Linked DNA regions of Homo sapiens: region 2 is linked to region 1. The links come from fine-mapping of genetic effects on gene expression. A gene starts in region 1. The other region holds a variant in brackets. All regions are shown on one strand. Distances are between the middles of the regions. Region 1 holds the start of CEMIP2 (cell migration inducing hyaluronidase 2). Region 2 overlaps CEMIP2 (cell migration inducing hyaluronidase 2).

Region 1 (3,010 bases):
CCTCTAATGCAGGTACACAGAAGCTGGGGGAAGTCATTTCGGTGTGAAGAGAAAAGCACTCTAAAGTGCTACCCAATGTTTACTAAGCAGAGGACATGCCTACTACACATTCTTCTGCTTTGCCCAGAAATGCAAACTAAAAAGAACCCTTTGTATAGGTAATCAGACCCACAACCACAGTATGATACCCAGACCAATTCTGAAAAGAACAAGCGTCCTTCAAGGGTCAAATAAGCATTAGTAGCTCCATTCTAGCCAACCAAAGAAAGATAAGGCTAACCATTTTAAAGGTGTTTTTTTAACACTGAGCCATTTCCAACAGATTTGCCTGGCTGCTCTGGGGAGTCAGGCCTCCCTCAGCTCAGGTGAAGCCTCTACCCTTTCCCCTCTCTCTAAATTCTTCTCACTTTTTACCGGGAAGAGCAGCACATCTCAATACATGCAACTGTGCAGCAGCGCATCACTCTGTCACACTGAATCAAGGGGAGTGAACTCAAGGCAGTGAGTAGCTCATGTGCACAATGAAAGTTTTAAAAATTATTAGGCAGTCTATCCTTAATCCCAACTGCTGATAAAAGGAGATATATATCAAAGTCTGTTTTCCTAACCTGCGGAGAATTCAAGTGAGCTGTTTCCGCTCCAGGTCGAAGTCTGGTGACACTCATCAACCCTCAGCAGAGAGCATCCAGGGAATTCAGGACCTTGGTTTTATCGCTAAGGGTGTAGCCACTAGTGCTATTAACAGCAGCACTCTGGGTCCTCACAGAGAGGGCCCCCCTCCTTTACCAGGATCTCCCAACTCTGCAGAGAAAAGCTGGGAATAGGGTCCAGGGCTAAGGCTATTCCCCAGATTTAAAGGAAGCTGTACACGATTTTAAAGCCTCACCTTACCTCAGCTAACAGAGAGGCAGGGGGCGGAGGGCGGAGGACCCACCAACCCAGGGGAATTGTAAGGAGACAAAGATGACCCCAAACGCACAAGCGCGCGCGCACTGAAGCCCGGACTGCAAAGCACATTCCATCAACCTTTCACTGTAATCGGCTTACTGTGGGGTTTATCCCCTCACCCCATCCCTCTCCAGAAAGTTTAAGGCTGTTCGCACCGACTTTGAAAGGTCCATTGTTCCCTTCCCCGTAAACGTAATGAAAAGAGAGAGTGGAGAGAAAGAAATCAAGACACCGTTCCCGAGGACCCTTTCTTAAGAAGAGAGGACTGACTCCTGGGGAGTCGGGTCAGTCCCAATCCAGAGATGAAACCGGGAAAGGAGGCGCACGGGGGAAGGGCGGGAGGACGTTTTCCTTTTCGGCAGAAATGCCCAACGCCGGAGCCGGCCAGGCCGCCGGGAGCAGAAAAGGTGGGCGAGACCCGGGTCTGCGTCCCCGCAGTGGCCCCCGAGGGCAGCAAACGAGGTGGAGCGGGGTGGGGGGGCGGGTGACCGAGTCGCTTCTTACCTTCCCCTACCCCGCTTAGCGTCCGTTAACTCAGGTGCCTACACAGCGGTCCAGGGAGACGGAGAGGAGTCCCTGGCGTCCTCGGGTCCAGATCTCCTCTCCATGGCCAGGAAGCCACTCGATTGCCGGCGCCCGCAGCTGCCGCTCGTACTCAACTGGCAGCCGCAGCCTCTGCCTGGAGGTGAAATACTCTCCTCCCGAGAGTGACGCGCACTTCCCTCCGCCTCCGCCTCCTCCTCCTCCTCCTCCTCCTGCCCCGAGCCTCGGGGGCAGGGGCCTCGGCTCGCTCTCTCCCGGAGCCGCCGCTCGGCTTTCTCCGTTCCTTCCCCTCCGGGAGAAAGAGGAGGAGAATCGTGGCCCGGGCGGCGCGGGCCTGAGCGTCCCCGCGACAACAGGGGAGGAGGCGGCGGCGCGGGGCAGAGTGGGGTCCCAGGAGTCGCTCTTGTCCCTGGTCGGCGGGCGCCGCGGCTTGCTAGGGTCGCGCTCAGCCTCCGCCGGCCAGACAAGCAGCCCGGCTCGGCTGGGCCGGGAACTGTGGATTGGGCGGGCGGGCGGGCGGGCGGTGGAGAGCGAGGGAGGCGGAGGGAGAGGAGGAGCCTGCCATCAGAGGAGGCGGTGGCCCCGCCCGGCCCCTCCCGCCGGCCCCGCTCCCCGCGAGCTGCGAAAGCGGAGGCTCAGCGCCACTCGCTGCCGCGCGCTGGAACAGCGCCCGAGCGCACTGCCGGCGGGGCAGAGCCCCAGCCAGCGCCCCCCGCTGCGGCTGCAGGCTCCTACCCTTCCTGGGCGCGCACACCCGCCTGGCCGAACCGGAGCCTGTGCCTCCAGCACCCCCAGATAAGGCTGGTACTGCGCCTGTCACTCCCTGGCTGAGCCTGACACTGCGCCCCCAAAGTCCCCTGGCTGAGCGTGACTGCACCCCATCAACCCTCGGCTGCGTCAGACTTTGAGCCCCATCACCCGTAAAGAGATTTCCACACTCCCACAAATGTTCTGAGCGTCCAGTCACAGCCCCTACCTGGCCAGGCGCGAGCGCCAGGTTCTCAGCGCTGTCAGAAGAACCAGCCTGCTCTGGGACACAGGGCAGCTCTTCTGGTCCCTTGGAGCAACCCCAGCATCCCGCTCGCAGGCCGGAATAAATATACTTAGGTCTTCCCACGCCCCCTACCTGCGCCACTCTGGAGTGGCGGCCGCTTGCAGAGGTGGCGCCGAAAGCCACGCCCCGGCCCACCCCAGTGCCAAAACGCCGCTCTGAGGACACCGGCACCGGCCCTGAAGCAGCCCTGCCGCCGCCACCCTGCCCCCTCGCTGGAGCTGCTCTCACAGCCTTGGCTCTGGGTGAGGGCGCGGCCCGGGCTGGATCACTCAGACGCACGAGGTCCCGAGCTAGTGACAGCTGCAGGACTGCCAAATCCGGGCCGTCGTCATCCTCGATTTAATTGGAATTGGAAGTTTTCCCTCCAGGAAACTCTTTCAGTGAATAATATACAAGGTAGGATAGTTTAGTTTTCAGGGTTGTTCATTCCTCCTCCCTCAACAAACTCAGTCCTGTAACCGCGAC
Region 2 (2,500 bases), 85 kb before region 1:
TATAGGAAATGCAAATAAAAATAATAGGTAAATGCAATTTTGTTTTAGTCACAAAAAAATTACAGACTGGAGTTAAACAGTGGGCCTATTATATTAGTGCCGTGGTTCCGAAACCTGGCTGCATATTAGAATCATCCAGGGAGCTTTAAAAAAAATTCCAGTGCTCAGGCTGCACCCAACACCAATTAAATCTGAATCTGGGGGGAAGGGAGTAAAGTCCAGGCCTCTATATTTTTTTTTAAAGCTCCTCAGGTAATTCCAGTGTGCAGCCAAGATGGAGAACCTCTGCCTTGGAGAATACAGTCCCTGCCCTTCTGAAGCTTACTCTTACAATATTTACTTGGTGGATTCTGTCCACCAAGTGTCTTCCTCACTTCCGTCAGTAACTTCTTTACAGCTGGAATCTGGAATTTTAAATTTATAGATAGAGATATAAATTCACATACAGGCCAGGCGCGGTGGCTCATGCCTGTAATGCTAGCACTTTGGGAGGCCAAAGCAGGAGTATCACTTGAGGTCAGGAGTTCAAGACCAGCCTGGCCAACACGGTGAAACCCCACTTCTACTAAAAATACAAAAATTAGCAGTGCATGGTGGCGGGTGCCTGTAATCCCAGCTACTTGGGAGGCTGAGGCAGGAGAATCACTTGAACCTGGGAGGTGGAGGTTGCAGCGAGCTGAGACTGCATCACCTCACTCCAGCCTGGGTGACAGAGCGAGACTCCATCTCAAAAATAATAACAATAATAATAAAATAAATAATAAATAAATTCACATACACACATATATAAAATACATGCACACATATTTTTATTTAACTTAGGCCCTGATTATTAGTATATAAAACAGAAAAACCAAGTGCCTTGGTAATTTACATATCTTCTCCAAATCTTTAAAGAACCAAGCTCTAAAAAACACACGTAAAGATATTTAAGTCATAAAACACACACACACACACACACACACACACACACTCTAATGACCTTCAGGAACCATAATCCAATAATATATTTAATAGGTAAGATCTCATTCATCAATATACAAAAAAAAAAAACAAACCAGAAAACAAAAAACTAACTTTGATTAAGACATGTGCCCTTAGTAAGGGCACTTACAATTAGAAAGGTTTATCGGTAGCACTTTGAGGTAGCATATTTTGTAAAGTCACAGGGCTGCTCTGCAGTTTCTCCTGGATACAAAGGTAGAGGCCATCAGCCTTTGCCCCT[A/G]GAAGAGGAAAGTGAAATTATCTGTACTCATTGCCAGTGTCAGCCTGAACACACTTTCTACCACCCACCCTTGGCCATCCCTCCTCTACACTTTATGCGTCGGGGGTTTAGAACAACGTAAAGGCATTTTGCTGCTTCTTTCCTCTTGGTACGGCAGCATCCCAGGCTGTGGAGCCAGTTGCCTCTTGCCGCATGTGATTCACCAGCAGGAGACGCATGCACCCTGTGGAAAGGGAAGCTGGGCATCACAGCATGCTTTTTAATTGGCTTTAACATTTCATTAAGTAAGAGTGACTCATTCCTGCAAGGCTTTAAAGAGGTTCATTTCTGAGTATTCTCTCCACGATTCTGACCCTAGAAAGCGCTCCTTTTTTTCCTCCCTGGGTGTAATCATTTTGGGGTATCATTAAGCTTTCTGGGATTTTCCTGGCAGGAGGGTGAACAGAAAAGCTTTAAAAAATCCACACAAAACAATAACAAAAAACCCAAGTGCAAGAGCAATACCAAGAACAGACTTCCTTTGTGCAAGTTAAAATGATACAAGTTTACGGTTCAGGAAAACAACCTACTTCTTAAAACAAAACAAAACAAAACAAAAAAGGAAATATTCAGTTGAGCTCTGCATTTTAAACACAAATATACAGTCAAAAGAGGCTAAGGATTAAAGCTGCAAAAATGGTCCCAACAGCCTCAGACTTTTGCTGCAGGAAAATTTTTTGCCCAATGGTCACAGATTAAAGGGATATCTAATCCCCAAGAGCCCTTTTGTCCCAATATACTTCCTGTTTGAAAGTTTAACCCTTACAAGTAATTGATATATAAGTGAATAAAAATAGCACATGTCCAGGCAAAAAAGGGCATGAGCTGGGCCTGAGTTGCCACTTAAAACTGTCATTCAATATCATAGAAAATCCTCAAAGGCTGCCCAGAAACAGGGCCCCAGGCACTGCTGAACATGCCAGCCACCAAGTCAACTGCCACCCGACCCAACTGAGCATTAAACTTCAAGTATCCAAGGTGCTACAATAGCTGGTCCTCTAAAGACCTCAGGCTGACTCTCAGAAGCCCCCACTCCACCCCACCCCATTATACAAAAAGTAAAAACATTGCTCATGGTCATTACAAAATACGGGGGTGGAAAGTGAGGAATAAGAGATCTGCTCTCTGAATACACCAGCCTTACAAATACAAACAACGTCTTTAACATTTTGTACAACTAGAAGGTGCATGAAGCTGGTATCCAAGCAATAATTTCAAACGCTTTCTTTTCTCCCC

Evidence for each region.
Region 2: its variant is fine-mapped to the expression of CEMIP2 in whole blood (INTERVAL, PIP 0.99).

What each region holds. Positions count from the first base shown.
Region 1 is chr9:71,766,905-71,769,914 of GRCh38, forward strand. CEMIP2 (cell migration inducing hyaluronidase 2) reads right to left here and starts at 1,609. Exons shown (of 24, transcript NM_013390.3): 1 at 1,453-1,609. RefSeq lists enhancers at 1,267-1,948, 1,949-2,630 and a silencer at 1,704-2,373.
Region 2 is chr9:71,682,579-71,685,078 of GRCh38, forward strand. CEMIP2 (cell migration inducing hyaluronidase 2) reads right to left here. Exons shown (of 24, transcript NM_013390.3): 24 at 788-2,500. Among named protein-coding and RNA genes, the nearest start is that of CEMIP2, 85 kb to the right of the region's middle. The variant A/G (reference allele first, on the strand shown) is at 1,226.